Linked DNA regions of Homo sapiens: all the other regions are linked to region 2. Evidence: fine-mapped expression QTL. A gene starts in region 2. Each other region holds a variant in brackets. All regions are shown on one strand. Distances are between the middles of the regions. Region 1 has its middle 5.6 kb from the start of FAM157D. Region 2 holds the start of FAM20C (FAM20C golgi associated secretory pathway kinase). Region 3 has its middle 18 kb from the start of FAM157D. Region 4 overlaps LOC105375113 (a long non-coding RNA gene). Region 5 overlaps LINC03015 (long intergenic non-protein coding RNA 3015). Region 6 overlaps LOC105375113 (a long non-coding RNA gene). Region 7 has its middle 8.2 kb from the start of LINC03015.

Evidence for each region. PIP is the estimated chance that this variant, and not a neighbour inherited with it, causes the effect. A credible set is the group of variants that fine-mapping cannot tell apart.
Region 1: its variant is the best candidate, but not a certain one, in a credible set for the expression of FAM20C in whole blood (TOPMed, PIP 0.75).
Region 3: its variant is the best candidate, but not a certain one, in a credible set for the expression of FAM20C in whole blood (TOPMed, PIP 0.87).
Region 4: its variant is the best candidate, but not a certain one, in a credible set for the expression of FAM20C in lung (TOPMed, PIP 0.79).
Region 5: its variant is the best candidate, but not a certain one, in a credible set for the expression of FAM20C in whole blood (GTEx, PIP 0.50).
Region 6: its variant is the best candidate, but not a certain one, in a credible set for the expression of FAM20C in whole blood (TOPMed, PIP 0.69).
Region 7: its variant is the best candidate, but not a certain one, in a credible set for the expression of FAM20C in monocytes (TOPMed, PIP 0.65).

The regions. Positions count from the first base shown.
Region 1 is chr7:39,094-43,158 of GRCh38, forward strand. No RefSeq gene overlaps it. Among named protein-coding and RNA genes, the nearest start is that of FAM157D, 5.6 kb to the left of the region's middle. RefSeq lists an enhancer at 1,405-2,348. The variant A/G (reference allele first, on the strand shown) is at 2,328.
Region 2 is chr7:190,115-194,179 of GRCh38, forward strand. It overlaps FAM20C (FAM20C golgi associated secretory pathway kinase), which reads left to right and starts at 2,457. Exons shown (of 10, transcript NM_020223.4): 1 at 2,457-3,690. The coding sequence starts at 3,086. LOC124901808 (a long non-coding RNA gene) reads right to left here and starts at 4. Exons shown (of 2, transcript XR_007060632.1): 1 at 1-4.
Region 3 is chr7:51,642-55,706 of GRCh38, forward strand. No RefSeq gene overlaps it. Among named protein-coding and RNA genes, the nearest start is that of FAM157D, 18 kb to the left of the region's middle. The variant T/C (reference allele first, on the strand shown) is at 2,079.
Region 4 is chr7:68,617-72,681 of GRCh38, forward strand. LOC105375113 (a long non-coding RNA gene) reads right to left here. Exons shown (of 3, transcript NR_187847.1): 3 at 1,801-2,955. Among named protein-coding and RNA genes, the nearest start is that of FAM157D, 35 kb to the left of the region's middle. The variant C/A (reference allele first, on the strand shown) is at 1,863.
Region 5 is chr7:144,803-148,860 of GRCh38, forward strand. It overlaps LINC03015 (long intergenic non-protein coding RNA 3015), which reads right to left. Exons shown (of 3, transcript NR_134325.1): 2 at 3,730-3,816; 3 at 1-9. Among named protein-coding and RNA genes, the nearest start is that of LINC03015, 2.6 kb to the right of the region's middle. The variant T/G (reference allele first, on the strand shown) is at 1,592.
Region 6 is chr7:80,635-84,699 of GRCh38, forward strand. All of the region lies in intron 1 of LOC105375113 (a long non-coding RNA gene), which reads right to left. LOC101929756 (a long non-coding RNA gene) reads left to right here. Exons shown (of 3, transcript NR_187733.1): 2 at 1-660; 3 at 2,281-2,715. Among named protein-coding and RNA genes, the nearest start is that of FAM157D, 47 kb to the left of the region's middle. RefSeq lists enhancers at 896-1,668, 1,669-2,439, 3,733-4,065. The variant T/C (reference allele first, on the strand shown) is at 2,239.
Region 7 is chr7:139,222-143,286 of GRCh38, forward strand. No RefSeq gene overlaps it. Among named protein-coding and RNA genes, the nearest start is that of LINC03015, 8.2 kb to the right of the region's middle. RefSeq lists an enhancer at 1-636. The variant C/G (reference allele first, on the strand shown) is at 1,841.

The DNA.
Region 1 (4,065 bases), 150 kb before region 2:
CCAAGTACTGGGAGAGGCCTTTTCCTTCGTCTTTTGGTAAATTGCAATCCCTGGGTATATTCACATTTGAAACTCAAATGTGGGCATTGGCTACTGCAGGCCTTTCCCGGCTCAATGGAGTGCAGACAGGGGAGGCACAGGAGTGACTCCACTGTGTGAAGAGAAGACTGATGAGGGCCCATGTGGCACCTCAGGTAGGGTCTGCACTGTCTGGACTATGGTCAGGCCCCTGCCTGAGCCAGCCCTGCTCTCCAGTGTCCCCAAGGAATCCCTGAAACTAGCATCTCATGGAGGAGATAGACGATGCAGGAGGTCCCCTGTGCCCAGAACAAATGGTACAACAAGGCCCCTCTGTTCCCCAAACTGGTCTCAGCAAACTTTCCCCACAGCTTGGATCTGGGCAGGTCACAGGGCCCAAACCTCATGACCAGCAGTGCTGGACCAGGGGGCTAGAAGGGCAGGTGGAGCTCTCTGATGACATTGTGGAGAGGAGGGGTGCCAGGCAAGGGGTGTCCAGGCAGGGGGTGTCCAGGATACTGTCCTGAGAGCCTCTCCAGGAACAGGTGCCCTTAGGGGCAGAGAAAAAGGCAACCGGGGAGACCAGAGGAGTCTGATGCAGATAAGGAGGGGCTCTGTCCAGTGATGTTTCTCCACAATGAGCTCTCCCGAGGACAAGCAGCCTGCTTTATAGGCGAACCCCATTGCACAGTGAGAAGACGAAGACTTCGGAACTCAGTTCCCTAGAACCTCTTCTCTCCCTGCATAGTCCAGCCCTATTGGTCCTTTCTGGTCTTGAAGGTCTTTAATGGAAACAAACCGCAAGGCCAAGGCCAGACCTGCCTGCCCTTCATGCCCATCTCCACGCAGCAGTTGAGTGTGGACTCTGCCTCCCCTGTCCCCCGAACAGTGAGTCCCCACCAGCCCCTCCAGGGACACAGTGCCAGCTCTGCAGCCCTCCCATCCCTCTGTCCATTCTTCTGCAGGCAGGATGGGCACTGTGGCTGGAGGAAGGCTCCTGATCCACTGCTTTGGGGGAATCTGATTTAGCACTCTACAGGGAACCCAACAGAGATCCAAAGCTGAGTACTGATTCAGAGAAAGAACATTTCTGCTAAGCTTAGGGCCTCAGGGAGGACAGATAATTATCTAAAGTTGACAGAACAATCAATTTTCTGGGTCTGAAGTTTACAAACAAAATCCCTCTCCTTTGAAGGCAGATTAGCCATGGAAACACCTTCTACATTGCCTGCCTAAATGGTTTGTCTCTGCAATCAATCTCTCTATTCTTTAAAACAGAATTAGGATAATTTGCATAATTGTTTCTTGTCTCAGAGAAATCTTACAGGGAGGCTGTCTCCAGATAACCAGCAGCCTGGGCTCCAGGCCGACGCCAAACCCACAGGCAGCCTTGTGGTAAGGCTCCAGGCTCTAGAGCCAAAGGATCTAGGTCAGAGGCTCCACCTGGGGCTCCTGCGCCCTCCCTGCCAGGGCGGCAGAGGGAGCCACATCCCTGAAAGCCTCTGGCTTAGGGACCTCAGAATTCCCACCTCTGATAAGGTAATGAAATGAGCCAAAGTTGGTAAAAATCTGTGAACAAACTGGCCTACAGTGGCTAAAACCAGAGGGAGAAAAATAATGTGATAAACCCCCAAACCAGCCATCCTGGGAAGTTTCAAGGGGCTGCTGTGCTCCTGACTCCTCCCCCGCCTCCTGGAGCTGCCCAGGTGAGCAGACAGAGTTTTGAGAGCTGGCGCTGAGACTCTGTGCCTGGAGACAGACACTGGGCAGGGACCCTCAACTTTCCTGTCCGTTTTGCGCAGTGAGTCAGAAACAGATGCTGGGGAGCAGCCAGCAAGCAGAGGGCTGCCTGTCTCAGAGGCAGGAGCATCCACCTCAGAGGATGCCAGGTGGGGAGATCCTGGACTGTGCCACCCCCAGGGAGGGCACAGGCACAGCAGGCCTCTCAGCAGGAGCTCGGGGGTGGAGTAGAGACCAGGGATTCCATAAGACTCCCCACTGCTCCCCATTCCCTAAGGTGCAGCAAAACGTCTCCGCTTCTATGAGGACAGTCCAGACGTCCCCAGCTTCCCCTAGAGCAGACAGAAGGCCTGAGGCCCTGGGAAACCCACGTGCCCACTGGAAGTGGGGAGTAAAAAGACAGAAGGGACCCGTCTGGAAACAAAACCAGTCAAGAACCAGACTCACCACTGCTTCAGAAAATATGGGGAAATGTGAGCATGAATTTCATAAAGCACAGTCAGCAAGCCACGAGGAGGGCCAGCGTCTGATGGACAGGGAGACTGCAGACCCCAGGAAGCAGCAGGAGA[A/G]CAAGGATTCCCTCTATGATTTCCCACGGCTGATGCTCCCGACCTGGTTTCCCTTCACTGGTGCTCCTCCTGTGTTCCACACTGGATACTATCCTGCCAATCCACGCCCCTTGCTGGCCTTCAGTGAGGTGGAACTCACCACACTCTGGCCTCTTTCTCCACTTCTCTTGCTACTGTCCATTTGCAAAGATCTCAGATGGCTGCACCATGTGTTCTGACCAGAGAAAGACTGCAACCACCTTTGCAAAGCTTATGACAGCGAGGGAGGTCACGCATGACTGACTCCACCTTACCTCTAGCCTCACAGGCAGGCTGTCCTGCTCATGCTTGGGCACAGGCTAAACTAATCCGGGGAGAAATTTAGTTATAAAACAATACTAGTCCCTCTCTAAAACTAAAGCCCTCCTTCCTTGAGGACCAAAAACGAATGAAAGGCCACGTGATTAGGATTTCGGGAGGAGCCCGAACTCTGCTAAAATGTAGACATAGTTTCCGTAATTCCTTATTGTTCAGAAGTCATATGGCTAGAAGTCACACAATTTGTGACTTCTCCAATTGCTTCTGTAGATAACAACACTATTGTAGAGCCTGAGTTTGGTTTTTTCAGCTGTTTTCCAGATTTTTGCATTCTGCCAACCGACTGACCCTACCCAGACCCATGGCTCATGACTCAACTGGTCCTATGCACTCCCACCTCCCCACCCAGAGGCAGACTCCGTGACAGGATCGTTTTCTACACCCTATGACTGCATCCCTAAACAATCAACCGCACCCACTCCCTGGTCCTCTGCCCACCAAACAATCCTTGAAAAACCCAAACCTCCCGTTCTTCTGGGAGACTGATTTGAGTAGCAGCTCCTTCTCCCACGTGGCTAGCTGCATCAATTAAACTGTTTCTTTAGTGCAGTACCACAGTCTCGGTGAATTGGTTTTGTCTGTACAGTGGGTGGGAAGAACCCATTGGGCAACTGCAAGACAGTTCAGCGTGCTTGCTCATCGTACTGGAAATAAAACCTATTTGTAGGGTCAAAGGGGCAAAGTTGTCCCATGTTATTCCCTTTTGGGGAGTTATCTGTTGGGTGTTTCTAGCCTGCTGCAAGCTAGGATAAAGCAGAGGTCCTCGTGCCTCTCCTCCAGGACCCCATACAAACACCTTGTCCTCCATGAAGAACCCGGGACCTGCAGCCCTCCTCTCCTGTGACCTTCCCAGTCACTTCATCCTCATCTCGGGGTGCTGCCAGCTGAATGTGCTGTGCTCACTGGCTGCACCACTACCCCCGTGCACACACACTCCTGCAGATGAGAGCTGCCAAGGCAGAGAGTGAACTTTTCTGATTTGACATTCCCTGTACATTTGTGCCTTGACACGCCACACAAATACAGTGTGCAGACACCAGTAAAAACAGAGAAAAGGTGGGGACATAAAGGCCCAGACGTAAGAGTGGGCAAGGGTGCCCTCTGGTTCATTTCACTCTGCAGTCGACTCCCAAGGTGAACCTAGTGAATTCTGCCTCAGAAGCCCTGGTTTCCTTGTCTCTGACACTGAATCCACAGTAGCCATGATCCACGTTTATTGGATCACCAGTATTTTGAGGAATGTTAGTATCATTCTACAAAAAATATTTTAAAAATTGATTTCTATAATCAGGAAATTTCAGGAAACCCTGAGTAAAAATGATTGATTATTGCAAAACTTCTCTGAAGCTTTCACAAACAAATGTGTGCTCATCTCCAAGGC
Region 2 (4,065 bases):
GTCTGTGTCCACGTGTGTGTATCTGTGTGTGTCTATATATCCGTGTCTGTGTGTATCTGTGTGTATCTATGTGTGCATCTGTGTGTGTCTGTTTTCTCTTTGTTTTTATGGTGTCCACGGATGGGCCGACTGAACCACCAAATTCCTCCTCAGAGCCCAGTAAAGGCACCAGGCGGAAGGGTCTGGCGGAGGGTTGGCCGCTGTCTCCTCACTCCTCAGCGGGGTCCTGTCTTCCGACTTTTGTCTCGCGCCGCCGCAGCCTGTGGACTCCTGGGCCCTCCTCTGAGAGCCTGCGCTGTGCCTGGCCCCGGGCGGAACTTTGAACGAGGCTCCTGTCTTAACTCGACTGCTTGTGCTTGGGGGAGATAAACAATAAACAGGAGCAGAAGAAAGTGTCCTCAGACCACGGCGGGTGCTGTTGGGAAAACAGTGGCGGGGCAGGGAGGGGGGCGCTTCTGAAGGACCTGGCGAGGTAGAGGCCACTGTTCTAAGAGGCAACAGACGAGATGAACCAGGACCCTCTGCGAGGGAGGGAGGCGTCCAGGGGTGCACACGGGTCCAGATAGCTGCCGGGCTCCCAAAAACCACTCTGGGGGTGAGGATGGGAGGGGAGAGGAGTTGGGGGCAGGAGGCAAGTGAAAGTAAGTGCCCAGGGAACCTCCATGAGGCCCCCCACACCGGATAATAGTGTTCCATGGGGTCTGCTCAGCCCCATGTCTGCCCCAAGACACTAGCCACAGCTCTGCGTCGAGGTCCTGTAGACCACGGGAGAGATGGGGGGGCCAGGAGCCTATAGAACTCCAAGTCCAAGGGGACCCTTGCTGGGAGAACACAGGCCAAGACCTTCCTTCCTGCCACAGGCTTCTGTCCCTGCTGTCTGCTCCCCCAGGACTCCCCCCACACCCGGGATCTTCCTCCTCACCCTCCTTGGCCTCTCTCAGTGACCCTGTCTACACACAGATGTGCTGTCCATGTGAGTGGAAGGAAGGAAGGATGAGGTCCACTCACAGGGGTGAAGCTGTCTCCTGAGGGGGCAGCCCACCTCCAGGTCACACCGCCCCACCCAACACAGCCTCCAGTCCAGCTCCAGGTGGGCCGCACCCAGCCCTTCACTCACTTCAAATGGCCCAAGACGCATGGATTCCACTGGCCAGCCGGACTGGAACAACTTCTCCCCTTATAAGTATCTAGTGGGTGCCCACGGAATGCCAGGCAATGGGCCAGGCTCAGAGATGAGTGATTCCTCAGGAACAATGGGCTCAACGCCCTTAATTCACATCAGAGGAAACTGAGGCTCAGAGAGGGCGGAGAGGGCCCTGGTAACACAGCCAGCCGGTGAAAGTAAGAGGGGGGGCCCAGGCCCTGCTCCCGGCCCACCCGCCTGGGCTTGCTGGCGAGGCTGCTGGCCCAGGCAGTCTGGGCACTGTGGAAGCAGCCGGCTTGAGGCACAGGGGATGTGGCCTCCTCCCACACACTTACCTCCCTGACTACATCTTAGGCTGACATCCAGATTAACTCATATTCCCTACAGGGAGCTGCACGGCCAGAAGCTGCTGGTTGCAGAAGCCACCAGCTGGTTGTACAAGCACCGCTCCCCTGGTTGTGGGTGACAGATGAGATGCACTCACGTGAACACACATGCATGTGCACACACACATGCACACAGACGCACACACAAACACACACAGGCATACACACGCACACGCACATCCACACACACACATGCGCACACACACGCACACGCCTGCACTCACACACCCCCGTCGGCCCCAAGCAGGAAGGCGCCCCCGGCACACCAGCCCCTCTCAGCGCCCCCAGCGGGCCCGGCGCCTGGAGGGTTAAGGCGGGCGCGTCCCGCGGGTGGGCGGGGGGGGGGGGACGGGACCGGTGCCGGGAGCTCCGCTGCCCTGGCGTCCCCTGGGTCCAGGCCCAGTCGCTCCTTGGGCCTCTCTCGCGGGGCCGCCTCCGCCTCCTCCTTGCCGAGACGGGCGTGGGGCACGGGGTCGCCGCCCGGCGGGGAGCTCATCCGGCGGCGCAGACGCCCCGCGGCTCCGGGGAGGGACTTGGCCTGGGCCCCGGCCCCGCGCTCCTCTGGGGAGGAGCCGAGAGGCTGCAGCTGGCGGCGGCGGCCCCGGGCGGGAGGGGGTCCCAGGAAGCGGCCAGGCCGGAGCCCCCCACTCGGCCGCAGCTGCTGGCCTGGCCAGAACCGAGCGCGCCCTCCCGGTCTCCGCCGCTTCCCTCTGCAAACCGCGGGCAGGAGGAGCCCTCTCCTTAGCGGGCCCGGAGCTCAGAGGCGTCGCGGGGCGCGGCCGAGGGGAGGAGGAAGGAGAGCGGGAGCGCAGCCGGCCCGGGCCCAGCCGTGACTCGTGGGGCGGCGGCTCCGCCAATCTGTGGGCGCTGACGCGGGGGGCGGCTCCGCGGCGCTCGATATCTGCCCGCCCGGGACGCGGGGCGCCGAGAGGCTCGGCCAGGCGGGAGCTGCGCTCGGGGCGGCCGCTGCACCTGCCCGGGACCCCGCCGGCCGCTCCCCGCGCCCACCCCTTCCGCCCTTCGCCCCCCCCTTCCCCCCAGCCCCGGTCTCCCGGGCGCGGCGTGAGAGCAGAGCCCGGCCCGGAGGAGCCGCCCCTTCCCCGCCCGCCCGCCCGGCGCCTGGAGAGGAGCGCGCTGAGGATCGGGACGCCTGCGGCCGCCGCCACCGCCCAGGCCCGTCGCGCCCCGGCCGGGATGGACCCACACGCCCGATGAGCCCCGCGCCGGCGGCTGCGAGCGCCGAGCCTCCCCCTGCTGCGGCCCCAGCCGCCCCCCGCGCGCCCGGCTCCGCGGACCAGGACCCCTGGGCTCCCCGGCTGAGGGCGCGGCCGCTCCGGAGAGGCCGAGCGGGGACGGGCCCGAGATGGCGCGGGGACCCAGCGCTCCGGCGGCGGGCGCCCTGCACGCGGCCCGGGCCCGGGGACAGCCCCGGAGCTGGTAGCCGCCCGGCACCGATGGACCTTGACCCGCGAGGCGGCGCCGCGCTCGTGCCCAGCTGCAGCTAGAGGGGCGCGCGGGCAGAACGCGCTCCAGGCCCGGGCCGGCCCGCGCGGCCATGAAGATGATGCTGGTGCGCCGGTTCCGCGTGCTCATCCTGATGGTGTTCCTGGTGGCCTGCGCGCTGCACATCGCCCTGGACCTGCTGCCCAGGCTGGAGCGACGCGGCGCGCGGCCCTCGGGGGAGCCCGGCTGTTCGTGCGCGCAGCCCGCCGCCGAGGTGGCCGCGCCCGGCTGGGCCCAGGTTCGGGGCCGCCCCGGGGAGCCCCCGGCCGCCTCCTCCGCCGCCGGCGACGCGGGCTGGCCCAACAAGCACACGCTCCGCATCCTGCAGGACTTCAGCTCCGACCCCTCCTCCAACCTCTCGTCCCACTCGCTGGAGAAACTGCCGCCCGCGGCCGAGCCGGCCGAGCGCGCCTTGCGGGGGCGGGATCCCGGCGCCCTAAGACCCCACGACCCCGCGCACCGGCCGCTGCTGCGAGACCCCGGCCCGCGTCGGTCCGAGTCGCCCCCCGGCCCCGGCGGAGACGCCTCCCTCCTGGCCAGGCTGTTCGAGCACCCGCTTTACCGGGTGGCGGTTCCGCCGCTCACGGAGGAGGACGTCCTGTTCAATGTGAACAGCGACACCAGGCTCAGCCCCAAAGCGGCGGAGAACCCGGACTGGTGAGTGGGGGCTGGCAGGTGCCCACCCCCAAGGGAGCCGTGAGCCCAAGGCATGGTGTAGAGAGGTTCAGGGGCCCCAGAGGGCCGCCCCCCATGGAAGAGGCCGGGCAGGGAGTGTGGTGCGGGAGGAGGCAGCCGCCTACCTCAGGGCGCTGCCTTTGTCTCCAGAATAACCTCCTCCTTGGGAGGGGCTGCCGGCTGGTCCGGGAGCTGTGCCCTGTGGCTGCTGGTGAGGAAGCCAGACCCCGCGCCCTTTAGAAGCGAGTCCTGACCAGCCGTGGTCACCAGCTTGGGAAATGGGGTCAGGCAATGAATGAATGAGTTGGTGAGGGAAGGAGCCAGGCTGCCGCTGGGCTTTCAGACACTTGGCGAGGG
Region 3 (4,065 bases), 140 kb before region 2:
GCAAGCCGAGGAACAAGGAAGCCAGTCTGAGTCCCAAAACCTCAAAAGTAGGGAAGCCGACAGTGCAGCCTTCAGTCTGGGGCCAAAGGCCCGAGAGCCCCTGGCAAACCACTGGTGTAAATCCAAGAGTCCAAAACTGAAGAACTTGGAGTCCGGTATTCAAGGGCAGGAGGCATCCAGCGTGGGAGAAAGATGAAGGCCGGAAGACTCAGCCAGTCTCGTCCTTCCGCATTTCTCTGCCTGCTTTTATCCCAGCCACACTGGCAACTGATGAGATGATGCCCACCCAGATTGAGGGTGGGTCTGCCTCTCCCAGGTCCACTGACTCAAATGTGAATCTCCCTTGGCAACACTCTCACGGACGCACCCAGGAACAATACTCTGCATCTTTCAATCCAATCAAGTTGACAATAGTAACCATCACATTAAGTAACCAATTAGTGAAAACTCATAATGAATCCATTATGCTAATGAACATCAAGGATTATGTTATGTTCATAACATAACATGTTACGAAAATAACTATATTTTCTTTAGAAACTGGTGACAGGAGTAGCATTGTTTAGATGTGTGAATGCTCCTGCTGCCTGGCTCCTGGGAAACAAGTTTCCCATGTGGAATTCTGTATTCAGTCTGCAGTGACATCACACGTCAGTTGCCTCTGCACACTTGTGAGAGAACGGGAGTGGAAAAGGCACTCAACACTTCAGCCATGAGAGGAAACCTGTTTGAACTAAGAGTCCCCTAAGAGGGGAGCCAGCACCACTTAAAAACCTTTAAGTACTCTCAATAGAAATCTTTAGTTCACAAGATGTTTTACAAATACCTTATCCTAGTCTCCATATCATTTGTGGAAGGGAAAGTTTAGATTTTATTATTATTTTTTAAAAAATTATTATAGATATATTTATTATTAAATTTTAGTCAATTTTATTAATCTTTTGATCATGTGATTTTTCTATGTATTTTGCGAAATCCACAAAATGTATTCAAAATATATTTTCTTATATTTTCATCTAAAGAGTCTTGCTATATTTATAAAGTTTCTCAGTCCACCTGAAAATAACCTTTGTGTATGTCTTGAGGTATAGATCTAAAGGTATCTTTTTTCAAAATGAAGAGCCAATTGCCCAAACGATTGGGCACTTTATTTGTTTTCTAATAGACTAAGTTTCAACACAGAAGAGGGTCTTCTTTGGTGCTCTGTACTCTTTTCCTTTGGTCTATTTTTCTCTTCTACCAAGATATCATGTGGCTGTAATTGCAATGGATTTATATGGTGTGCTTATATCTGGTGTAATGTATCCTCGACTTACTTTTTCTCCTTTAAAAGTATCTTGGTTATTATTGTCCTGTATTGTTTTTGGAGTCAGCCAGTCAAGTTTTAAAAAACACGTAAACAGATGCAGGTGAACGTGTCCCCATGGGTGTGTGCTTGGTGGGAACTGCATCAAATTCATCACCTCACTTGGGGAGACTTCATCGCTTTACCATGCAGGTCTCACCACACCTCCCCATTTATAGACATCTTTAAAAATATTCTTCACTGATATCTTTATTTTTTCATAAAGTTATTACCCTTGTCTTAGTTGATGTATTCCTAGGTAACTGATAACTTTTGTTGATGTCAAATGAAATTGCTTTTTATAATTATGAATTGGGTACTGCTGATAGTTTTGTTTACTAGTCTTGTGTCCAGTTGAACTCTCTTATTTGTTATGACCTTTTAAAATGTAGATTTTTATAGGGTCAATAAAGAATGATGGTTTCCTTTTATTCCTGACCCATTGTTCCACATTTAGTTCATTTTCTTGCATTATTGCACAAGCCGGTAACTCTACCCGAGGTTGCATAGAAAGGGTACATAGAAAGGGCATATCTTTGCCTTGCTCCTACCTCCCAAAGGCAGTTTCTGAAGCTTCACTGTCACATGTGGTGGCTGCTTTTTCTAGTCTATGATTTAGATGCTGCTTTTGCATCAACTTAGCTGTGGATTTTTTTTTTAATGAAGTTTCACTCTGTTCCCCAGCCTGGAGTGCAGTTGTGCAATCTTAGCTCCTGCAGGCCTAAGTGCTCTC[T/C]ATAAACCCCAAGTGCAGCAGGCGGGAGGAGACTCTGGCTATGCACAAAGTTTGCTGGTGGGAGGACAGAGCCAGGAACTCTGTGTGTGTCAGTAAAATGTTGGGGTGACAGTCACCTGGGGGGAAAGCCATCACAGAGGCACTGACATGAGCTGTGTGCATTGGGCAGTCTCTCCACCTCCAAGGGCCTCAGTGTCCTCTCAGGTGTGAGGGTCAGTGGTCCCCGTGGCCTACTGCCACATTCATTGAAATGCTACATGTCCAGAATATGCTATTTACTGGGGGGATAAAGGGAAAGAAATATACTTTGCGCATATTTCATACGGAAGACAATAGTGATAATGCTTCAATTAGTGCATTGGAGATGCCAGGTTGATTGTAAATGAAATTGTGCTGAGATCTCAGCTCTGCACCATAATTGCACTAAGTTTTTTGAATAGAAAACACTTTATCAAAGTTGTGACTTAGTGAGGAGAGATTGCTAATGTTTTTTGCAATGGAGTCTGTTGCTTTATCACATCAAAGATTTTGTTACAAATGCATGCCAGGTGACCTATGAAGTCATAAGCCTGCAGTAACTCACCTGGCTGGTGTAGAGGAGTGTAATTCTAACACGGCCATCCCTGTGGTAAGGGGAAAGGAAAACACTGAAAGGTTGCTTCTCTGTGAACAGAGTGGCTGTTTCCAGGTTTCTGACCCCAAGGACGTGGGTTCCAGTGGACACAGTGAGCCAGGCTGTGGGGTTACACAGCATGTACCATGATGATGGGGGTTCCTTCCTCTTAGGACTCAACACGCCCAGGGCCCTCTGGAAGCACACTCTGGAAGCTGTCCTTCTGCTCTGTTGAGGGGTAAAGAGTTGGTGAATCACCCCCAACCCCTCTAGTCCTTACTCAGTTTCCATCTAACACTACAGATGGGGCCTCATTATACAGATGCAGAAACAGAGACCCTGAGAGAGGTCTGGCCAGGCTGAGGCCCACAGTGAGTTCGTGATAAGGTAGGACCAGAGCCTGGGTCTCAGGCTCACGGTGCTCTCTGTGACCCCACTAGGTCAATCCTCTGTAACCTGCTTTAAGGGAAACAGGGTGGGGCCACACTCCCCGCAGCTCAGTCTGACCCTGTGGATCTGTGGCCTGAGAGTAGGACACATGCACCAGAATAGGTGATTCGGAGCCTGTGGTCCACTCTCAGCCTGTGTCCCCCACCCCACAGGCAGGGCCACTGCTTCCAGATTAAAGGAAAGGTGAGTTACTTAGCGCTCATTAACTCACGAAGTCAGAGGTAATCAAGACCAGATTGAACTTCCGTCCAATCGACTTAGGCACTCTCATGTTTAAAAATCCATATGGGGAAAATAATGCAAGAACGTAATTTTTTAAAAAGAATGTGGAAAAGTGGTGTAAAACTGTTAATTGTTCTTAATGTGAGCTGCAACTTTGGCCTCACTGTGGCTGCTCCGTGACGGATACTGAATGGCGGTGGGGCTCCTTGGAGCTTGCTGAGGGTTCCCGCCTGTATCCACTTTCCCTCCAGTCACATTATTTTAAGAAGGGAAACTGCCCCCCATTCCCTGCCTCCCTGCTTCCTTTGTGGTCCTTGGGAAAAAGAAATTCCACGAAGAAACTAGTCTGTGCTGCTGGGGTAAGGACAGTGTTTTCCCTGGAGGAGGCCACGCTGGAGGGACCACAGAGGCACTGCGGGCAGCTCACACCCTGCTCCAGTGTCCAGGTAATGGCCACAGGGTGAGCTTGGTTTTTCAAAATCTACTGAGCACTTTTCTGTAAGTACATGATATTTCAATGAAGCATTATGAAATTATATTATCAGAAGCCAAATTTGGTTTGTTTCCATTGGGTTTTCAAGGTCTATTTTATTCCTATCCTTTCCTTTTTCTTTACATTTTCTCCTCTTCTTTAACTAAAAAAACCTCTATAAGTTTGAAAGACTCTCAGGTCTTCAGGATAAAATGCGAATTGGTGCTTTA
Region 4 (4,065 bases), 120 kb before region 2:
AAAAGGGGGCCATGAAAAGGAGGGACAAGGTGTCATATATCAATGCGGCCAAGCGCCGACGCTGCCTCCTCCTTCCCCAGATCACCAGGAAGAAGTCAGAGGAGGCTGCTGTTCGTCGACCCACATGCTCCCTTGGGAGCTTGAGAAGCTGCTCCCCCTGGTGCTGCCCCTGGGTGCTGCTTACCGGGAAACTCATGGCATCCGAGATGCTCCACTGCGCTGGGTCTGTCCCGGATCCTCCCCGCAGGTCAGATTCATGTCAGGAATGCTGGAGGGTATTGCGGTCTGGCAGGAGCTCACTGTAGGGAAGGAGAGGCTGGGCTGGATCCCGAGGCTGAGCCGTCCGGCTCTGCAGCCCTCCCGGTGCTCAGTTATCAGGCTCACTACCTCTCAGAGGCGTCTCTTCTCTCTGTGGACATTTGTCTGTCACAGCTGCAAGATTCTCACAATAAACTTGCTCTCCAAATTCCTAAAAGAATTGCTTGCTCCAGTTTAGCCAGCTAAGACTTTCTTGGATAATGGCATAATCTGGAAGGATATTTAACAAATTCGTTTAAACTGGAAATTATTGACTCTATGGTGAGTCAGGAAAAACCACATTCACAATATTCAACAGCAGCGCTGGGCCTTGATGCTCCAGGGCAGTGCAGGGATTAGAGATCTGAGAGGTTTCATGACGCTTCTCAGGGGAATACACGGGTTCTGGGTTCTTCTAAGGAAGCTCCCTCCATGCCAGCCACCACCTTGTCTCTGCTGGGGAAACAGTGGTCCAGGGGCCCTCAACTGCAGGGAAATTATTGAACCTCCCAATGTCACTGCATCTCCTCTGGGTCTTCTTTTATTCCTTCTTTCCCCTAGAAAACACCTTCTGACACACTCCCGCTCTGCCTGTCTGTCCCCGGCTGCGGCCAGACAGCGAGCAGGGAAGAAATCCAGTGTCTGGACTGTTTGCTGGTCTGCAGAACCTGTTCTCTCGCAGTATCTGTTTTCCAATGCAGATTTTCACAGTTCCCTAAACAAACTTAAATTTCCATTCCCAGAATGACTTCATTTCCTGATACCCAGCCCAAATTCACGTGTGTTTGCAGCCGATGTGGCAACATAGCCACTTGGGTGGGGGTGAACATCACAGCCCACAGTTCTGCAGTTCAGATTTGGGTTTATCTTAGCACTTAGTGCAACTTTGCATTTGGCAGAGGTCTTTCTCTTTTGTAGTCCTTGCCACCAACCTCATTACTTGTGAGAGTCTGCCTCATGCCTGTCTGCTCAGCAGATGAGAGACCTTGAGGCCTGGGAAGATCCCGCCCTCCTTGGCTCTGTATTCCTAGGTAGTGCATTGCCTAGTGGTTGGTTAATTTTAGGTGTCAACTTGACTAGGCTGAGGGAAACCCAGATAGCTGATAAAACATGCTTTCTAAGTGCGCCTGAGAGGGCGTTTCCAGAAGAGATCAGCATTTGAATCAGGGGAGTGAGTGGGAAAATCCACGCTCCCCGAAGCCTGAGGGCCCAGATAGAACAAAAAGGCAGAGGAAGGGTGAATTCTTTCCTTATTCTGGATCTGAGACATCCATCTTCTCCTGCCCCCAAACATCAGAACTCGGGGTTCTCAGGCCTTTGGACTCTGGGACGTACACCAGCAACTTCCCTGGTTCTCCAGCTTGTAGATGGCAGCAGGACTTCTCATCCTCCATAATCACATGAGCCAAGTCACATGAAAAATCCCTGCTCATCCCTCTCTCTGTGTACATCCTATTGGTTCTGTTTCTATGGAGAACTCTAATACAACTGGCACAGACTAGCTGCTCAACAAGTGTTTTATTTCTGAATGACTGAGATGTTTGAGCAGCTTCCAAGCTTACATA[C/A]CTGTGTTTCCATTAAAGCCATTGTTTAGGAGGCCGATGGCAACAAAAGGTTGAAACATGGCAAAATCAGGGGCAGTTGATTTGAGTTATACCGTGATGTGTTTACATTTGTACTATGATAGGGATTTATTGCAAGGAGTTAGGAATGCTGGCCTCTAAAAGCTGGAAAAGTGTATTTTGTTGGGGAGGCCTGGGAGCCCCCATCTCACACACAGGAGGGAAGACACAAGGGGAAGCACTCGTGACGATGAACGAGATGTTGTTCCTGCCAGACGCAGGTCCTTGCCATGTGTGTGCATAACCTCATTTCATTCGATAGCAACTCAGGAGGAGGAAATCATTATTAACTGTATTCTTTTATGTACAGAAGCTGAGGCTTGAAAGTGAAAATGACACAGCTGTTCATGGTCTTGCTGGCATTGGAGCCAGGAGAGAAAAATCCCTTGGTAAAATCTCCCAGCTGAATGGGGAAATGGGAATATATCCCGCATGGCCCAAAGAGACCATGGCTGGAAGTGGTCACAGTCCTCGAGGGGGAGCTGTGTGGTGGCCAGGCTGTGGTCATGAAGACACAGCGGCGTGGGAGGCTGAGGGTCGCTGGGGATGCTGGCTGGAATGTTTCTGTTAATAGCTGGAGCTCCAGAGCCTGTCCTGGAAGAGGGATGGGGGCCTGGTCCTGGGAGGGTTTGTAAACCGGCATGAGCACATGTCAGGGTGGAGCTCTGACGTCAGGCCCCTGGCATGACTACAATAGACATCACACAAATGGGGCAAGAGGACCAAGCCTCCCCACGGTATAGCTGCTCAACTGTGTGGGGGGAGCTGTGGTGAAACACAGGACTCACTTAGAAAGATCCAGAGAGATAATCCACCCACAGAAAACCTGGAGAGCATTTTGAAACTTCCTACAGGAAATCCAGGAGAAAAGGAGTCCTATTCAGTGATGGGAGGGGGGGCAGGTCAGGGGCCGCATCGGAAGGCAGTCGTCTGAAGGGATGCACGGATTCACGACGGAGGTGCTGAGACAGCCACAGGAGATTGGGTGGGGAATCTAGAGCTGGGACACTCTGGTTTTGATGGAAGGAGCATCGCCCTAGGAAGCAAAGACACAGATTCGAGTCCAGGCCTGGAGCAAACTTCAATCACCCTTAAGCCCTCTGAGTTTCTGCGTCTGTGAAATAAGCATAATGATTCCCACCTCACAGGGGCAGGGGCAGGGGCAGGACACTGTGAGATTGTAAGGGTTGGTGTCCCTCTTCGCATGGAGTCAGCAGCCGGCTGGGCTGAGGGAGGTGTTTCTGTCCTTAGGTGTCGCAGGCTGGCTCTCGTGCGTCCTTCCTTCCACTTCTCCCCACCTGCATCCACACAGAGAATACACTACCTCCATAAAACGCTTGCAAGGGGCCACTGTTCTCAGCATTTCACCTGTCAACCTCACTTAAGCCTTAAACAGCCTATGATGAGGTTCTGATACTGTCTCCCTTGGCCTGCTGGAAGGCCCAGTGCTGAAGGACAACTGGGCACCCCGGCTCTTGGTATGGTCAAAGGCTCTCACCTGGACAGGGAGGACCCCCTCCTCTCCCTGGGCCTTCTGCTGCCCTGAGCCCCTACTGCTCTCTGCCACGGACTCGGGAGGGAGCATGAGCTGCATCCAACAGGCCGCAGCAGGTCCCGGCCTCTCAGCACCCAAGACCAGACAGAGGCAGTGCCTCGGCTGCAGTAAAGGCCTAGCGACCTGGGTGGGCATGGGGCACACGTTCTTACTCTGGCATTAGAGGTCATGCCACTGCTTGTCTTTACCATTCTACCCAGTGTCCTGCGAGGACTTGGTCCTCAGGTGGGTCACAAGTCTCAAGTCCATTAATTAACTGGTCGGAAGTGAGTCCTGGTCCATCCCTGTGAGGAGCAGGGGGACTGGCACCTCATTTCCTCGTGGACTCATGGCCCTACACAACGACACGCCTGGCCTTCCTGGACCCATGCACTCACTCCAGAAGGACATTTGCTTTGAGCTCGCCTGGTGGATGGGGTGCCCCTGAACATCTAACCATCAGTTGACATTTCCACCATCAGAAAGTTCCTCTAGGCAGCGCCCAGCTAGTGCTCCAAAGAGGTGCAGAATCTCTGAGAAATTATGTGGTCCACAGTCAACAGCTAACAACATTCATAGGACCTTATTAGCCGCCAGCTTGGAGAAGGCCAG
Region 5 (4,058 bases), 45 kb before region 2:
CTCATCGTGCTTCAGGGGATACAAAATGGATACACAGATAACTCTAATACAAAATAAGGTCTGAGGGCAGGAATTTTGGAATATTGTCATATTTGTTTCTAGAGTTATTTTAGAAAAGCTCATATTGTGGGATTTGGATGAAAATTCATCATTACATTCTTAATAGACCGATTTGGGGGGCAAACTGGAGTCCTTTTGTAACACTGGTTTGGATAAGGGAATTTGAAATTACCTCAAAGAATAAGCAACAGTTCTAATTTTCATTCCATTTAGGTTCAGAAAAAGGATGGAGGTAGAAAGTCCTCTCTCCCAAACACTATGATTGACACTGCAGAGTTCTGCAACTCTCGTACGAGGGAGATTTCATGATGATCTCAGTAACCGATCAGAGAATCAACGACTGACTTCGCTGAGGCACGGTGATGAAAAGGTCAAGGTGGTCTGGTCTGAGTGAAGTCACAGCAAGAACCCTTGTCCAGGGCCATTCTCACCTTTGGGGACAGCTCCTTCCCTGTATGGTCCTCATGTCACTGCACTTTCCTGCCTTGTTTCTTGCTGAAGCCATTATTTCTTAATTCCTTAGTAGATATGCAGAGCGGACATCCCAAAGAAGCTAGAAAAATTGATGAGCAGGGAACAGATCAAATCCTCTCCATCAGTGGAAGGCAATTCACGAGGGAAGAAGGCAAGACCATGGGGTAATTTTTCTGAGACTTGACAATGTTTGCCAAGTAAATAAATCTGCCATTTAACACTACGATAAAAGCTGTCATAGCCAGGGTATTAGTGACTACTTGAGGTTTGAGGACAATGAAGACAGAGTAAGATAAACATCCTTACTATCCAGAAAAAAAAAACGGAACCAGAAGACAGCGCTTCTTACTATCCACAAAAGAAATGGAACCGCAAGACAGCCCTTCTTATTTTTCTCCATCTTCGATGGTGAGGAAGAATAAAAAAAAAGTTGCTTTTAAAGTATATTCATTAAAATCAAATTCTATTATCATACACACAAAATATTTACGTGAAACCAGCCACAAAAGAATGACAAGGAACGCTACTGATTTGTCCATTCTGGGGGATAAGAACACAGATTCTTATCTCACTCTTGTTAAAAGAAAACTTCAGCTGAATTAAATTTAAAGGAGTTTAATTGAGCAATGAATGATTTGCACATCGGGCAGCCCCCAGAATTACAGCAGATTCAGAGAGACTCCAGTGCAGCCACGTGGTGGAAGATTTATAGACAAAAAAAGGGAAGTGAGGTAGAGAAACACCTGGATTAGTTACAGGTTGGCATTTGCCTTATTTACACACAGTTTGAACATTCAGCAGTGTATGAGTGATTGAAGTACGGCTGCTGGGACTGGCCGAGACTCAGCAATTGTGACAGGTACATACTCCTAATTTAGGTTTTCAATCTTGTCTACCTATTAAGTTAGGCTCAGTTTGTTCACAGGGACTCCAATACAGAAGTACGGAGTCCTTCTCAGGCCATATTTAGTTCGCTTTAACAATTCCCCCTTTTTGGTCATTTTATCAGTTTTGAGAGATTGATCGAAACTTGAGTTATTGATGTCACTGTCACCAT[T/G]GGTCTTGAAACCCACTAGGAAGCAGAACAGTGAGTTTTGCAAAGGTAGGAACAAGGACTGAGTTGAGGATACCACCTTATGCTGGAAAGTCCTGTTTGCAAGAGAAAAACAAAACCTGGTCTATTCTAGGACCCATGTGTTTCCTTAAAGTCTTAATTCGATTATGTCACATTTAGCACGAATGATGCCATTTTGGTTCGGTTTGGTCTGTTGGGACCTAGTGCTCAGTCCAAAACAATGGCCTCCCATCATTTTGTTTAAAAAATTCCCCCTTTGTCAGGTTGTCACTTAGGCAAGAGTGTGACCAAAACTTAGGATGTTAGCGCCACTCTCCGTTACTATCATTTTGGATTTCCAGTCTCAGCATGTCACTCATCGGTTTCGGTGTCCTCGTGGTCACACATTTCTTTCAGCTCTTGTCATTCCAGTTGAAGAGAGACCATCTGACGTTCTAAAGATGGCTTCATGCAAACATTTAAAACCTTTGAGAGAATACAGTGCACCAGGGAGACTATTCTTATGACTACTGAGAGGGTTAACACCAAGAATTTGGAGTATGCTCCTTAGCCAGGGTCCCCATAAACCAGACCACCTAAACTCAAATAGACCATTCTTTGACTTAACTCAGTGGTCTTTTCGTTAATTCCCTACAACAGACTCTCTATAACACCTGATGTTTTCTCCATAGGCCTTAAGTGCCAGCATCTGCACAGGTACTTTCCTGTTTAGCCAATTCTATTTTTTAGCATAACTTTCACAAGAGAATTTAACATCTGTTGTGTAGCCTTTACAGTAGAATCTGCTACAGAGTCTACCATGAGGGATATGTTTCTAGTCATTGCCTTTTTAATTCCAAACCATGGAAAAAGGACCTAACAAATGATGCCCTTCTAGAAGAGGGAAGGCCTCTTGGCAATGGTCTCTTTAACCCATGCTGTGGGTTAAGAGGAGTGAACCAATGTTCTGCTTCTGAATGATTATGAGGCACCATATGTACCATTGAAGTTTCTCACCTATGATACACTGGGCCTTCATCTTTATCTATCAAGTTATAAGATTATCCATGTATAAAGCTGGCTGCAAAGCCCTTCACAAATAAAAGTATACCCCATAAGTGCACAAAACAGACCCCCTTCTCACTTCTGTTGTTCACAGAGGCGGAAGCAACGGAAAAACATTCAAAGATAAGAGTCTCATGATAGTAAGAAGTCTTGATCCATGATCTTCAGAAAGAGCTGCTCACATCAAGGATGCCATCTTCTTCTGGGGAGAAACTTCCCTGATTAGCTTTACCTTAAGGGTTTCAATGGATGTAGAGTTCCAAGAGTGACCCTGCTCAGTTGTGAGATTATGACCCCAAGGTTCAAGATCCTGATGTTTTGTTGCAGTGATGATGCCAAGGGCAGCGTTTCTCTGATGTTCTCAGAAGATCCCATCTTTGGGTTCTAGATTGTGAAGGGGTTGATTGTCCTCAGTGAACCATAAAAAGCTCTTTACCTGGTGAAAATACACTGATACATAGTAATCTACTGTTATAACATTAGCCCTCCTGCATGGGAAAGCTTTAGTACAACCAGAACACATACATTGAAAATGACAACTGAATGAAACCCCTTTATAAATGTTTAAATGCCTCATCAGGTAGCCAAATGTACATGAAGCTTTGATTGACTTCCCAGGAGTATGGGTTTGACAAACTAAACATTGTTTATAAACTATTTTAACAATCTGTAAGTCACCACACCAACATATTTAATTTGGATCATTTTATCTTTTCCAGGATGAGTCATGGAATGCATAACTTTTAATAACAAAAGCTTTAAGGACTCACGAAGGACAAGGCAGCCATCTTGGTTCTCCATGAGTCCATGCTTAACATCGGACTTATGTCCTCTTGGGTGCCAGTTGTTTCTCCAAATTGGGCACATAGCATGGATAACTGATGGGTTATCACAGGTAATTTGACTTAGACCATGGAGTTCATTCAAATTGTATATCTAAACAATTTCAGTATAGGCTGATTAAGTATGCAAACCTGGTGAAGCATTTCCTCGGTATTCAATTAATTTTTATTCTATTTGGGTTAGCAGTTTTATAAGCCAGTCAGTCTTTTCATTAAAGTTTCAGCAATTCTTACCCAGTCCAAATGATGTGATTTTGAAGTTACTAGAAACCTGTATTCCACAGTGCTTTTCAGGGTCCTCCCCATCCGTTCACGAACCTCCTAAAAGACACCATGTTCTAGGATTTTTGTGTGCTTGTGAAGTTTTCAGAAACTACATCAGCATGAAGCAATTAACTGCGGAAATGACTTTAAATACTCAAAAAGACACAATTGACAAAGAAATTTGGTTATAACAACAACATAACCATAATTATGATCGGTAGCATATACTCAGAAAAATTAGAATTTTAGAAATCCCATACAACTTTGGAACATATATTAATATCATTCACTAAAATATA
Region 6 (4,065 bases), 110 kb before region 2:
CATGGACTCCCCTGTTCACGCATCCCGGCAGCGCGCAAACCATCCCTGTCGGCTCCCAGTGAAATGCTACAGGATCTCAGGGCAGCTGCACCCCGCAGGTTCAGAAGGGATGGGATTCTGTGTCCTTTTCCTTCTTGCTTCAGACCTTCACCTGGGGCTCTAACACCGAAAGTCTGTGCCAGACAGAGGCATCCACAGCGACAGGAGCCTGGGCCAGGGCGGCCATCCCTGCTGCAGAGACAAATGTCAGTGTCCATGGAATCAGTTCGGTGCGGTGAGCGGCAGGTCTGATATGAAAGCTACTCGCACTTCCCGTCTGGGCAAGAGCAGGAACTCGGCAGGCAGAGAGCTGGTGGAGCTTTCCATGGGAAAACCAGAACCTTCAAAGAGCCCGGCCTCCCTCTGATCAGCCCCTTCTTTCTGATCAGATGCATTATTGACGAGGCAGCCTCCTCCACCTGCCTCTCATCAGAGCAGCTCGTTTCCCACCGTGGTAATTTATACTTGTGATTTTGGCCTTGATCAATAAAGGCAACGGAGAAGACGCACCCGTTCATTTCCTACAGGAGGGGCGGAAACACACAGGCCTCTGTGCAGAGCTTTCCTGGGCTCTTCTGAAGGCAAGCAAACCCATCAAAGGGAAGATCTGCACGCTGAAAGGTCAGCAGTTCCCTTTTCCCCATGGGATTTGTGTTAGCAACTTTGCGAGTGGAAGATGCATTTGGAACTGCCAGTCCCTTACAGCCCTCACATGGGAGGTGCAATGTTCATCCTGTCACTATTTTAAAACTCGTCTCAGGGTTGGGAGTAACTGAAACCGTTTTGGGCTTAATTTTGCATGAGGACGTAGCAGAGCATGACAGAAGGGAAAAAGAGAAAATGCTGGCAAAGGAGAAATGGCCCTAAGAGGGAAGCCGGATCCCTAGCTGGGTCGGAGTAGATGAGCGGGGAATGAGGGGCTGGAGGATGCAGCTCCGAGCGTGCAGGGGTGGTGTGCTCTCGGGAGGGAGCTGCTGTGGAGCTACTAAGGAGGGAGGCTGAGGGGTGGGAGAAAGCCCAGGGCTGTAATCGTAGCCCCTGGAGCCTGATTTAAAAGACTGGAGGAGGCAAAACCTTTCCTGGGTGACATCCATCCAGGGCATGACCCTGCGGCCTCCGTGTCTGCTGTGGGCGAGGCTGTCCCTGCAGCCAGCCCTGCCCCCATCCCTTCCCTTCTAGGGATGTTGGAGTGTGGGGCAGCCCAGCTTCTGCCCACAGCACAGATGAGGAACTGAGGATGCAGGGGCCCGTGGGGGACGGCACACGGTCAGCCCAGAATTAGGACCTAAGGTTGGCCCTATGGGTTCCTGCAGCACAGACGTGCAGCATGTGCACCCACATGTACACACAATCAGGCATAGCCACAGAGAATCACACCCTCCCACGCACACCCACACCCACACACCCTCCCACAGGCACACGCGCACCCTCACACTCATGGTCTCGCCCTCCCACAGGCACACCTACACTCACCCACGCCTACAGGCACACAAGCACACACTCCTTTCCCCCCACAATCCCTGCACACCCGTGGGCACCTATGCTCTCGTGTGGTCTGGATCTGCCCTCTGTGTGCACAGCCTGTGCCTGGCCCAGCGTGAGTGACTCGTGGATGCTCTGCAGGTGAGACCTGAGGTGAGTGTCCTGGCACCGCCCGGGCCTGGCTATCGGGAAGCTCCGCCCAGACGGCCGCCTCCTCCCTGGCGCGGGCCTCTTCCCTAGGAGGAGCTCGTTAGCTTGTTTTTCCATCGGTATTCTTTGTCCCCAGTCACCCGGACCTGGGGCTGGGCACTGCCAGGGGCAAATGTGCCATGTGGAGAGGCCAAGCGGGGGACAGGGGCGGCTTGTCCGCCAGGTGGCACCGAGGCGGCTGCGTGTGGGGCAGTGTTCCCACTCTCGTCACCAGCCCGCACTTCCCGCTGCCTCTGAGTATTCTGTGGGGGCTGCCCCGGCTGCAGCCCCAGGTGTAGCCTGCTGGAAATCTCACGGTGTCCAGGCCCCATCCCTAACCGGCCCGGGGCATCCCTGATTTCGTGCTCACCGAGAGGGGCCTCCCTCGGCCTGCCCAGCTAAGAGCCTTGCAGGAGCCCTTCTCCAGCCTCACACTGCCAGCCCCTTTGAATTGCAGCACTCAGGTCCCCAGGAAAGGTGTTTTTATCCAGTTAGCTGTTTTTTATACTTATGAAAAAGCTCCGTCGC[T/C]TGGAGCAAAGCAGAGTTGATTTTCAGATGTGATTTCTGCAGGCAGAGCAATGTCTGGTTCCTGCTGTTTCTTCTGATGGGCGCGGCGGTGACTGAGGGTGTCCTGCGAGCCGTCGGTGAGCGCTCAGCTGTCCTGGTCTGCAAGTTCCTACTGACATCACAACCTGCTGCTTCTCTCTGTCCTTAAGGGTCAGAAGATGGAGAAAAGGTTCATGTTTCCACCCCTGTATTCTGTTAGGTTCGGGTTTTTGAGAGAGGCTTGTGGGGAAGGGGCCGTGTCCCCACTCCTTCCTTTCTTCTTGTACACATATTTACATCCACTGATTGAGTGATTTACAATCACTCAACATGATTGACGGAACTTCTGGCACTGCGGAAGCTGTGCTAAGGCCTGGGCATTCATGGGACATGGAGCGTGCAAGAGCTGAAGTTTTAATGACTTGCTTGCAGAAAAAGATCAAGTTTTACAACAGAAAATTATGGGGCATAATTTCTATTGTGGCAAGGGACCAGGGCCGTCTCCTGGAGGAAATCTGGAGAGAACATGCCACAGCCAGGCCGGCGTAGAGAGAGGCTCTGGCAGGGGCCCCTCCCAACCCACCCCTGCATGCGTGGGGCTTCTGCTCAGCAACAGGGGCGCAGCTCCACTTTCAAAGTGTGAGGGGCAGGGGCTCAGGTCTCGGATGCCTTCACCACCTGCCTGAGTCGGGCATCGGGCAGGGAGCGTGCGGGGGCCTCTGCCTCTGCTGGCCCAGATGATTCCCTGGCCCTCCTCAAGTGCAGCTCCCATTAAATAGATAGAGCCGGGCTCTGAGCCACGAATTGGGCCAAGCATCCCAAGGGGGTGGAACCGAGTCAGGAGTCAAGACCAGAGGCCAGGAACTGCCCACGCCCATGTTCCTTCCACAGGGCCAGCCTGTCCGGTGGCAACACTAATACCATCCCATGAAGCCTGTGAAAATTAAAGGGAATGGTGCATGTTTAGAGGCCACACACAGCAAGTAACCAATGAACACCCACCCTTCATGCTTGGTTTTCATCACTGGGCCAGCAGGGGCGGAGGCCCCAGCACTCTCCCTGCCTGATGCCCGACTCAGGCAGGTGGGCTTGAGAGCCCCTCCCGGGGCTCCAGGGCTCTGAAGGCATCCAACACCTGGGCCCCTGCCCCTCACATTTTGGAAGTGGAGCTGTGCCCGTGCTGCTGAGCGAAAGCCCCATCCAGCTCTCCGAGAACCAGACGAGGGGCAAGGGAGATGAAGTCTTCCTGGAAACTTGGACTCCAGCTGGTGTGGGGGTCAGAGCAGCAGGCTGAGCCTTCAGGGGGCCTCCGGCAGGCTCCCAAGGCTGCGCTGTGCGTCTCTTCCACCACACGCACTGGGGCATGAGGCCAAGGGCATCGTCTGCAGAGCGAGAGGGAAACTGGGGTGGCAGGGCTTGCGGGCGCAGGACAGCGCCAAGGGGCTTTCGTCTCCCAGCATTAGGACGACCTTGTCCTCTGCCCCTGTCTGGGGGCCGCTGGGTCCCTCCTCACAGGAGCGAGGCAGGCAGCTCTGGTGCAGGGCCGGCCAACAGGCCTCAGATCTGGAGTCACAGACCCAAGGACGAGGACAAGGGCCCCACACACCTCCAAGCAGGCCCTGAGGTACTGACGGGCAGGCAGGACCCTCTGTGACCCTTCCTCACTCCTCACCCAGAGAAGCCAGGAGAGCGGGATGCCGAGGGACTGGAACAGAGAAGGCCTCTTGCAGGGGCTCATGGACAGGAAAACAGAGGAGCCTGCCAGGGCCATGGCCACTGGCAGGACAAGTGCCCACTGGAGCCAAGGCC
Region 7 (4,065 bases), 51 kb before region 2:
GGAGGGCACCCAGCCTGTGCTCCCTGGAAGGGTGGGTTACTCCAGGCAGGCCACTCCTGCTGGCATGGCGATGATTCAGTTTCAGCCCTGCACCTGCAGCCTCTGGTTGCAGCCGGTCTGCAGTGTTTCTCTTTGTTCCCCCTTCCATCTTCCTCCCACCTTATGTTCCCATGCTTCCCAGCAGGAGCGGAGGCCCAATTTGCGTTTCCTTTTCTGTAATAAAGCCTGCTGATGGGTGATTGCAGCTTTCTCTCACTGCCAGGGAGGAACTGGGGTAGGCTCCAGGCAGCCAGAGGCACCACTGTGCTTCCGTGGGTTTCCCCGGGGCACCTTCAAGTTCCAGTGTGAGTGCTGTTGAGATTCCGGGCGTCCAGTGCACACACGGGAGACGGCCATTGCCTCCCCTCCAGCCCCAGCCGCGGTGCACAGGGCGAAGGCTGTCTGGGTGAAGGCTATTTGTGAGTGAGGCCGGGGAATGAGGGGCAGTTGGCTGCTGCTCTGGAGGCCTGGGCGGCCTTGGTGTCTGGGAGCCTCGGCCAGGACACTGGCCGGTGGGGCCCTCGTGGCCCTAGCTGACCTTGACTTACTGCAGCTGGAGCGAAGTCTCCCACAGGTCCTCCATCCTGCAGGGATTCGGGCATGACTAGGGGTCAGGTGAATCTGATGGACAGCCCTGCTGCATGAGTTCAGGCTGGGGCACTCCTGCAGGAGACTGAGCGCCCAGCACTGTCCATGAGGAGGGGGATTCTGAGCACTCACTGTGGCTGTGCCCCCGACTCAGCTGCAGCCTGGAGGGAGTGTCCAGCCCCAGGGAAGGCAGAAAGCCCTTGACAAACCCTGGTGCTCTGGCAGCCTGGTGGGCTGACAGGCAGCCCTGTCCCCATCCCTCCGCACGTCTCAGGCATGGCCTGCACGGGTCTCCTCGCAGGTGCCCCCACACCCCACCGTGCACGCCTGGCCATCTCCTAGAGAAAGGCCTCCCAGGCTGCTCAGGAGTGGCCAGGCTCCTCCTGCCCTCCTTCTCTTTGAGTGCTGAGCATGGGAGGCAGGTGGGGGGCCAAGGTCTTTGAGTGCTGAGCATGGGAGGCAGGTGGGGGGCCAAGGTCTTTGAGTGCTGAGCATGGGAGGCAGGTGGGGGGCCAAGGTCTTTGGGTGCTGAGCATGGGAAGCAGGTGGGGGGCCAAGGTCTTTGAGTGCTGAGCATGGGAGGCAGGTGGGGGGCCAAGGTCTTTGAGTGCTGAGCATGGGAGGCAGGTGGGGGGCCAAGGTCTTTGAGTGCTGAGCATGGGAAGCAGGTGGGGGGGCCAAGGTCTTTGAGTGCTGAGCATGGGAGGCAGGTTGGGGGCCAAGGTCTGAGCCTTTTGGAAGCACCCATCATCTGGTTCTCAAGTCAACTCTGATTTTCACGTCACTGGTGATTACTTCATTTTAAAAGGTAGCCTCCTGTTTTGGAGGTGTGAACTAAAAGCATAACCCTGAATCCCCCCCTCCACTGACTGAATGACCCTTCTCGGTCAAGGGGACCCAGAGAAACCTGAAAAGCTGAGTTCCAGGCCCTGACAGGAAGGGGGTCAGACATGCCTCGTCATACTCCCTCCCTTTGGGAGTTTAGACACAACTGACCAGCAGTAATGTTAAAACGGAGATCTTAAGACTGACAAAGCAGACTCTTGGTGGCAATAGGATACCGAATTATAACAGGACCCGAGGCCGCACAAGGCAGGGGTGGGTCCCACCTGCAGGCTGAGCAGGACCTGAGGCTGCACCTGTAGGCTACAGATCCTGTAGCAGGATCTTAACTTAAACGTTCCAAGTTTTAGACAGAGCCTTGCTCCTCTCA[C/G]CAACAGGAACTCAAAGAATCTCTGGATCCATCTATATCCTGTAAGCCCCCTTCAAGGTGTCCCACCTCCAAAGGCCGAGCCAGTGTGGACCTGCCATGCATGGCTGTATGTCTTTGCCTATAACTCCTGCCTCCCTGAGATGTCAAAACCAAACTGCAATCCGATCTCCTCAGGCACACGTTCTCAGGACTCGCTGGGACCGTGTCTGTCTGGCTGTGTCACTCACTGGCTCAGAAGAAACCTCTTTAAAATATTTTACAGAGTTTGGTTTTTCCATCAACAGAGAAAAGACTTGGAATATGCAGGAAAGACTTGATCAATTTCAGGTGGTGGGCAGAATGCTTGTCACAGACGCACCCACTGCAAGTCTGCACAGCTGAGTGGAAGGAGCTGGTGCCTGACACTGTGACCCGAACTCAAAGGGCCACTCAGGCAGCACAGGCTGGTTATCAAGGGCGTCACTCCACCACCTCCAAAGCAAAAGGGACGTGTGGAGGACTGTGCTGCATTTTGTCTCAGTATTCATCAGCCTGGAGATAGAAATGTGTTCCTGTCGGGGGCGAGCCTTCCCTGTTGGACGTGGGTTTCTGAGGTTGTGTTCCCATTGGGGGTCAGCCTTCCATGTTGGAAGTGGGTTTCTGAAGTTGTGTTCCCGTTGGGGGTGAGCCTTCCATGTTGGAAGTGGGTTTCTGAGGTTGTGTTCCTGTCGGGGGTGAGCCTTCCATGTTGGAAGTGGGTTTCTGAAGTTGTGTTCCCGTTGGGGGTGAGCCTTCCATGTTGGAAGTGGGTTTCTGAGGTTGTGTTCCTGTCGGGGGTGAGCCTTCCCCGTTGGAGGTGGGTTTCCGAGGTTGTGTTCCTGTCGGGGATGAGCCTTCCCTATTGGACATATGGGTTTCTGAGGTTGTCTTCCTGTCGGGGGTGAGCCTTCCCCGTTGGAAGTGGGTTTCTGAGGTTGTGTTCCTGTCGGGGGCGAGCCTTCCCCATTGGAAGTGTGTTTCTGAGATTGTGTTCCTGTCGGGGATGAGCCTTCCCCATTGGACGTGGGTTTCTGAGGTTGTCTTCCTGTTGGGGGTGAGCCTTCCCCATTGGAAGTGGGTTTCTGAGGTTGTGTTCCTGTCGGGGGCGAGCCTTCCCTGTTGGAAGTGGGTTTCTGAAGTTTGCTGTTGGAAGCAGAGCTTGCGTCCATGCTCACAGCAGCACCAGCCGCAATCAGTCACTGAGGTCTGTGCTGGGTGTGGAAGATGAGAGTGGTACCACATGTTCCTCAATCTGGACTAGAGGTTTGTCTGTGATTAGCGGAGACTGGCCTGCCAAGAGCCAAGGGCGCTGTGTTTGCATGTACAGCAGGCGTCTGATACGGTTCTGGGGCAGACGCCAGCCAGGCCGAGCAGGCAGCCTCCACTGCTCCGTGCATGGGGTCAGAGTCCACAGCATGGGACCTGGTCCCTGGGCAGGCCTGACAGACATCTGTGAACCAGGAATGGGCATATTCCAGGAGGTCTGGCACAAAGCAAAGTCATTGTAGACTTTGGCAATTGCATTTGTTCCAGATAATACATTTTCTTAGGACCTAAGGCCTCAGAACTTAAAATGAATGTTGTAAAGTTTGAAGCCAAAACAAAATGCAGACAGGCTGTACCCAGCAATTCCTGACTCTGCAATCTGGGCCTAATTCAAGTACTCATCTCCATGGCCTGCCAAAACCCTCCCACCGGAGCTCACCCTGTGGTCCAGTGCTCAGCACCATTCATACCTATGTTCGGGGACAGAAGCCACTCTGGGGACTAGGAAGAAAACACGTAAAGGAATTGAGCTTAAAATAAAAAGAAATTCGGTATATTTCATACCCACTAGCAATATGCCTTTAGAAAGAGACAGGCTGGCAACTGCACGTTGGGAAGGACGCACAGTGACTAGAACTCTCGTTCCCTACTGCTGGGAGTGCAAAACGGAACAGCCACTCTCCCGACTGCCCAGCGACCACACTCCCGGGTGTTTACCCAAGAGAAATAAAAATCGTGTCTGTAAAAGAATGTCTATCAGCCTTATTGATAACGTCTCCAAACCCTGATTACATCAAGTGTCCGACCGCAGGAGGACGGACGAGAACGGGTGGCCCTTCACAGAACAGGCTAATTCTCAGCATGTGGGAGCACTCGTGCGTGGAAGGCCAGGCGTGTGACACGTGTGAGCATAGCGTGGGCAGGACGCACGTGAGGGCAGT